Homo sapiens: one gene and its partner. The protein of the gene in region 2 binds, or shares a complex with, the protein of the main gene of each other region. Each region holds a gene or a part of one and is shown on either strand. Other genes may lie near its edges.

The links.
Region 1: DDX39B (region 2) and THOC3 share a complex: the UniProt entries of both Homo sapiens proteins name them as parts of the transcription/export (TREX) complex.

The regions. Positions count from the first base shown.
Region 1 is NC_000005.10:175,965,516-175,969,619, reverse strand, and holds the start of THOC3 (THO complex subunit 3), read left to right. Parts: upstream 1-1,304; 5' UTR 1,305-1,411; coding exon 1,412-1,678; intron 1,679-2,352; coding exon 2,353-2,509; intron 2,510-4,104. UniProt on the Homo sapiens protein: Component of the THO subcomplex of the TREX complex which is thought to couple mRNA transcription, processing and nuclear export, and which specifically associates with spliced mRNA and not with unspliced pre-mRNA.
Region 2 is NC_000006.12:31,532,004-31,535,503, forward strand, and holds part of DDX39B (spliceosome RNA helicase DDX39B), read right to left. Parts: intron 3,483-3,500; coding exon 3,364-3,482; intron 909-3,363; coding exon 777-908; intron 1-776. UniProt on the Homo sapiens protein: Involved in nuclear export of spliced and unspliced mRNA. Component of the TREX complex which is thought to couple mRNA transcription, processing and nuclear export, and specifically associates with spliced mRNA and not with unspliced pre-mRNA.

The DNA.
Region 1 (4,104 bases), on a different chromosome or scaffold from region 2:
GAGGGAAGCTTTTCAATCTATTCCCTTTTATACATTTTACATTTGTTACCAAGTGCACGTGTTGCCTTTTAAAAATTGGGTTTTTAAACACATTTACCACTACTACTCACCACCAAAACCTTCCCCCCTCAGCTCTTCTCCAGGGCCTTGACTGGCGCTGGCAGCTCACCACCCCTTTTTTCTCCAGCAAGAAGCCACTGGTTTAAGGGAGATATGAGAGGTGGGGTGGATACGCAGGTGGACATTTACTTTTCACTCTATATCTTTTATTTTTATATTTACAATCATGTGCATGTAATACTGTTACAGGAAAAGGGTCCCAATCCAGACCCCAGGAGTGGGTTCTTGGATCTCACTCAGGAAAGAATTCAGGGCAAGTCCGCAGTGCAAAGTGAAAGCAAGTTTATTAAGAAAGTAAAGGGAATAAAAGAATGGCCACTCCATAGACAGAGCAGCCCCGAGGGCCGCTGGTTGCGCATTTTTATGGTTTTTCCTGATGATATGCTAAACAAGTGGTGGATTATTCATGCCTCCCTTTTTTAGACCGTATAGGGTAACTTCCTGACATTGCCATGGCATTTACAAACTGTCCTGGCACTGGTGGGAGTGTAGAGGTGAGGATGACCAGAGGTCACTCTCATCGCCATTTTGGTTTTGGTGGGTTTTGGCCGGTTCCTTTACTGCAACCTGTTTTATCATCAAGGTCTTTATGACCTGTATTTTGTGCTGACCTCCTATTTCATCCTGTGATTAGAATGCCTTAACAGTCTGGGAATGCAGCCCAGTAGGTTTAAGCCTCATTTTACCCAGTTCCTATTTAAGATAGAGTTGCTCTGGTTCACACGCCTCTGCCATTACCTTTTAAAAACAAAAAATCCATTTTTATTTAAAAAAAAAAAACAAAACCTCCAGACCCCTTCTTAACACCTCTTCCCTCACTCCACACCCGCTAGCCCTTTTCATGGGACAAGCTCACCAGCTGGTCCTTCTCCAGCAAAAAGACCAGAGCTTTCTGCTCTTAAGGGAGGGGACTAGGGATTACGGAACAACCCCAGAAGAAAGGTGATGAGTTAACTGTTTAGAAGGTTAGTGTTGGTTCTTTTATTCGATTAAACAGGAATACACATATATCTACCAAAGAATAGGTAAGGGAGAAATAAGAACACTAAAAAAACTCGGAATCGTTAAGTGTGAAGCATATTTGGAGTTAAAAGAACCAAATATTACTAAGTAAGCAGACGCGGGCACGCGCTGCATACCGGGATTTGTAGTCCCTTCCGGGGCGGGGTACAGCGCGCCTGCGCAGAGGGGCCGTCGCTCTTCCGGGCGCATGCGTGCGGCAGCGGCGCCAGGACTGACTGCGCCGTGGAGGCTGCTGCAGTGTTGTGAGTTGGAAGCTGGGGAGCTCGGCATGGCGGTCCCCGCTGCAGCCATGGGGCCCTCGGCGTTGGGCCAGAGCGGCCCCGGCTCGATGGCCCCGTGGTGCTCAGTGAGCAGCGGCCCGTCGCGCTACGTGCTTGGGATGCAGGAGCTGTTCCGGGGCCACAGCAAGACGCGCGAGTTCCTGGCGCACAGCGCCAAGGTGCACTCGGTGGCCTGGAGTTGCGACGGGCGTCGCCTAGCCTCGGGGTCCTTCGACAAGACGGCCAGCGTCTTCTTGCTGGAGAAGGACCGGTTGGTGAGCTGCCGGGGCTCGGCTCAGGCTAGGGAGAGGGGCCGTGGTGAAGTGAGGTGCGGTAGTGGGAGAGCGAATGGGGGCGAACGGAGCCGCGGGGGTGAAAGGAGAGTGGGTTTGAGGGAAGGGGAAAGGGGGAGTGTGGAGATGAGGAGGGAGTAGGGAGAAGGTGGAGTGTGGGGGTGACGGGGTCGTGAGGGGTGAGGAGAGGAAGACTGGGGGCGTGTGAAGAGTGTGGAAGTAAGGAGGTTGGCGATGGCGGGTGAAGGTGAGGAGAGGGTGGATGGGACAGGGCTGCGATGGGAGCCTTACTGGTTTGGAGTCGAATCCTGTGCTGATAAGAAGTGGCTAGGGGCTGTGGTGGTGGTGGTGGTGGTGGTGGTGGTACGTTGGTGGTGGTACGTTGGTGGTACGTTGGTGGTAGAGTAAGGGTGGAAAACCAGGAAGGAGGAGAAGGCCAGGGAGGGCACAAAAGTAAGGGCATAGGTGTGGAAGCTGAGAAAAACAGTTCAGAAGGCCTGCGGAGAAGAGAAGGGAGAAAGGGCTTGGAGGAACTGGATTCTGAATTACCCAGATCTTTACTGGTCCCAGCATACTTTGGTTTGAATAAGCTTATAAAGTTACATGCGGAGGCAGTTACATCTATGTGAAGTCACATCTGGATTCTGTTCTTTCAGGTCAAAGAAAACAATTATCGGGGACATGGGGATAGTGTGGACCAGCTTTGTTGGCATCCAAGTAATCCTGACCTATTTGTTACGGCGTCCGGAGATAAAACCATTCGCATCTGGGATGTGAGGACTACAAAATGCATTGCCACTGTGAACACTAAAGGTGACTATTCAGAGAGAGGGCAATAGGAAGATAAGCTGTTTGGATTCATTCAACAACCATTTTCCGAATATCTTTTCTGTGCTTGGCACTCAGCTGTGTATGAGACATCCTGAGCTGAATAAGAGTTTCCAGCTCCAAGGACCTCCCCTGCGGGGAGAAGACATATATATACAAATAACATAGCAAGATATGGTTCATTTTATAATGGAGAGGTCTGCAAGGTGGATACCCAGAATAGAAATGAAAACAAAAGTCTGCCTAGGGGAGCCAGGGAAGGCCTCACCAAATTTGAGCAAACTTTTAGGGTAGCCATAGGAGTTGAGTGGTCAGGGTGCTGTGGGTGGGGAATGGGACATTTCCAGGAGGGAACGGCATGTGCAAAGGCATGGAGAATTTGGAAAATTCTGATGAGTTAGAATGGTTGAAACTTGGATGGTCTTGGTGATCTGGGAGAAAGTTGTGCAGTACATTTATAGGCTCTGTTGTAAGTATTGAGGCCGATATTGTATGGGACTCTGAGTTTTCATTGATCGTAAGATGTTCCATTAGGAAAGAAAGTTGGTAAATAACTGTGATACACCCAAAATTTTGAAATGCTTTCTGATACATTTTAAGATACAGTGTAGATACTAAAATGTGAGAAAATATGCGTTTTAGAATGGAAAAAGTTGGTGAGATTTTTAATTGATGTGTTCAGTGTGGGCCACTGGACTTTGTTGACAAGACTTATCTCTGGAGGCGGAATGGTGTGGTTTTTCCCCAAGTATACAGCTGCTGATCCATGAGTGATTCAGGTGATGCGTGGGTGAACATTAAAAACCAGTTTTGCAAATATCTTAATGTCTACTAGAAGAACTAGCACATAGAATTTATTATTCAGTTGAAGCTAAATTTATTTTATTTTTATTTATTTTATTTTATTTTTATTTTTGAGACAGGGTCTTGCCCTGTTACCCAGGATGGAGTACAGTGGCACAATATTGGCTCCCTGCAGCCTCCACCTGGGCTCAAGCCATCCTCTCACCTCAACCTCCTGAGTAGCTGGGACTACAGGCACATGCCACCATGCCTGGCTAATTTTTTGTAGAGACGGGTTTTGCCATATTGCCCAGGCTGATCTTGAACTCCTGGACTCAAGTGATCTGCCTACCTTGGCCTCCCAAAGTGCTGGAATTACAGGCTTGAGCCTCCACAGCTGGCTGCTAAATTTATTTAAGTAAACTTTTTTGAATCAATTTTAAGAAAAATCTTGAATAAAGAAAAGTATAGTGTTTAATGGATAGGACAAAAATTGTGATGTTGGCATGCGAATGGCTGGAGTTGAGAAATGCTGGTGTAAGAGAAAAGGGGGCTTTGGGGTCAAATCTGGGTTTAAAATCTTGGCTTGGCCGGGCACGGTGGCTCACGCCTGTAATCCCAGCACTTTGGGAGGCCGAGGCGGGCGGATCACGAGGTCAGGAGATCGAGACCATCCTGGCTAACACGGTGAAACCCCGTCTCTACTAAAAATACAAAAAAATTAGCCTGGTGTGGTGGCAGGCGCCTGTAGTCCCAGCTACTCGGGAGGCTGAGGCGAGAGAATGGCGTGAACCCAG
Region 2 (3,500 bases):
TACTATTTGTAGAGACGGGCGTCTCCCTATGTTACCCAGGCTGGTCTTGAAGTCCTGGGCTCAAGCAATGCTCCTGCCTCAGCCTCCCAAAGTACTGGGATTATGGGCATGAGCCACTGCCCTGCACCCAGTCAGAAATGCTTCTCTTGAATAAGCAGTTATTAGAGGAATTAAACATTCAAGAACCCTAACATGCCCCCAAACATCGTTTCAAGACTTTTAACAACTTCCTAAAATCCTTCAAGGACTTTTGGAGACAAGATCTCACTCTGTTGCCCAAGCTGGAGCACAGTAGTGCAATCATAGTTCACTGCAGCCTCAATTTCCTGGGCTCAAGCTATCCTCTCACCTCAGCCACCAGAGTATCTGGGACTACAGGCATACACCACCACACCTGGCTAATTTTTTTCTTCTTTGGTAGTGATGAAGTTTCGCCATGTTGCCCCGACTGGTCTCAAACTCCTGGACTCAAGTGATCCACCTCCCTCAGCCTCCCCAAGTGCTGGGATTACACACATAAGCCACCGTGCCTGGCCAAGGATCTTAATTTTTGAAGTTTATTTTCCTTGAGGTTATTGAGGACATACCCGTGCCAGCCATAGAATAGAAAAGCAGCTCCCACCTTACTCATGCTCAGCCCCTAAGATATTTATACCCTCATTATTCTCTCCCACATCACACATGTGATTTCCTCAATAAAAGTGTACTTAATATCCAGGTTTCTGCTACAGCTGGAGTGCTCCAATGCTCATCCCCCTACTGGACGTCTAACTGACCTGGTTGAACTCAAGGACATCCAGAAGGTCAAAGAGCTTCCGGTTCTTCTCGTTGTCCTTCAGTTTCACGTAGTACTGCTGCAACCCATGCAGCGTCAACTTCGTCTCATCATCCACGAAGATCTCCATTGGCTGGGGGGGAGGAAGGGGGTGGGGAACGGGAGGAGGGCAGAGTGGGGGGGTTAAACCTGGGGGGGTGGAGGAAGTTGATCTCCAATACACCCCATGGGGGGATGGGGAGGAAAGAGAAGATTGAAAACCCCACCCCACTCCCAAAAATACCCACATTTTACTGTGGTCTCTCTCACATTACATCTAATTTCCTTCCTATCAGATGAGTTTTAAGACTGCCCAACTAAAAACTATCATGGGAAAGAAACTGCAAATGAAGTCAAGGAGCAGTGAAACCACCCAATGGCACAGATGCCATTACCTCAAATAGAGGTGGGAGAGGAAAGAAAATGGGAGATGATTCTCAAAGGGAGAGCAAGGACCAAACATCTGGGAAATGATGGGAGGCAGTGACTCAAGGTCAGAATAACTCCATCAGAGGTGCTTCTAAGAACATGGGGTGGGGGGAGGACAACTGCTCCATTTGATTCTCCTACTTCAACTAAGAGAATCTCGTGTGCATTAGCAAAGTGGATGTCTTTTAAGATCAGAATGCTGCAATGGACAGTCAAAATGCCACTTAAGGAGAAACAAAAATTACTCAAGATGAGTTACTTGCCGTCAGACCACAACAGGATAGTTTTAGATGAGACTGGTCTCTTGACTAAGAATTAAACCATCTACAGGTTTACAGGAAAGGTATCAGTAAGTGGTGTTAAAATACCAAATTCAGAGCAGCAGATACACTTTTAAGGGACAGGATCTCACCATGTTGCCCAGGCTGGAGTGCAGTGGCTATTCACTGGCACAATCATAGCACACTATAGCCTCAAATTCCTGGGCTCAAGTGATCCTCCTGCTTCAGTCTCCTGAATAGCTGGGACTACAGGCACACACCATTATACCTCACTGCATTCATCTTTAAAATTAAAAAACCCCCTGAAGGGGAGGAAAGTAACAAAGACAGAAATTACCACAACTCCAAAGCCCAACTTTCCTAACACTTTTTATACTATCCTGGGGGAAGATAGTTAATATGAAGACCCAGAGGACAAAATAGGAAAGGATGCGTGTGTCATGGGAAAAAAACCAGAAGCCCAATCCCAGAAGGCAGGTTTTGTTTTTTGTTTTGTTTTGATACAGGGTCTCTCTCTATCACCCAGGCTGGAGTACAGTGGCACAATTACAGCTTACTGCCACCTCCACGTCCCGGGCTCAAGCAAACCCTCCTGCCTCAGCTTCCCAAGTAGCTGGGACTACAGGCATGCGCCACCACGCCCGGTTTTTCTGGTAGAGACAAAGTCTCACTACACTGCCCCAGCTAGTCTCAAATTCCTGGGCTCAAGCAATCCTCCCACCTTGGCCTCCCAAAGTGCTGGGATTAGAGGTGAGCCACCAGGCCCAGCCAAGGCAGGCTTTCTAAAGAGAAGTTCCATGGCCTCCTTCAAATCTCATTCTAGCCCCAAATACAGCTAAAGAGTGATCATCCCACGGGAAGGAACACTGCAGGGAGGGGAAGAACACACTCCACTGCTTATGCAATTGGCCCCACCTAGCCCCAAACCCTAACAACCACCCGATTACATCCACTTTACCTTTCCTATGTCCCTCTCCTCTGAGTATTAAAAAAAACAAAAAAATTTTTTTAAGAAAAAAAATCTACCACCCCATTCAGGACACCCCTCCCCAACACATATTGGGGGAAACGGGGCACGGCACGCGTTGGGTTCAGGAAAAAAACCGGGAACGGAAAAAGAGGCTGGTTTGGTCCTCAGCTTCCTGGTCAGGTTTCCCCGCGGCCTCCGCTGCCGCCATCCACCGCTGGGTGCCGTCTGCATTCCCTCGCCGCGCCACGGTGCTTCTCTGTTGCCGGCTCACATCAACCGAGGTTCCAGATGGGTGCAAGGAGATGTGGGTGGGAAGGAGTAGGGTATCGGGGATTGAGGTGCCAAAGGCCCCCACCCCTGGAGGTGGGGAAGGGGAGGATTCATTTGTGCTGATGCTCTTCTTTTGGACATGCCCTGCCATCTGTCTGTCCCTCTCTTGCTCTCCTGCCACCGGGAAGTAGGAGTTTTGGTGAGCAGAAGGCTCCAGCTGTACGCTCGATGCCACCTTGAGGGTGCGTGGCTGTAGGGTGCATGTAAGAGACGATGGATGGGTGGGTGGTAGGGCAGAAAAATCCTGCCCTCCCCCAAAGGGAGAAGAGGTTCAAAAATGTTGTGATTTATGAAAAAGTCGAACACTACCCGCTCTCACATTAACCCGACCAAGTCTTCCGGAGTTTCCCTGGCACCCGCGCAGGCCCTAACACTAGCTGTCTCTGCTTCTGTATGTCTCTTCAAGGAGTCATTACTCCCAGTTGGGCACAAGCCGCCTTCTTGGCACTTGAATGACAAGGGAGTCTGAGGAAGAGGGCGAGGAAGGGGAGGAGGCAGCGGGCGGGGAGTGGAGGGAGAGAAGGTAGAAGGGTATTTACATCTTGCATGAACTTGCGGCAGACTGGACGGATCTCTTTGCTCAAGGTAGCACTGAACATCATGACCTGCTTCTCGTGGGGGGTCATGCGAAAAATTTCCTGGACATCCCGACGCATGTCTACAAGAACAAGGAAAA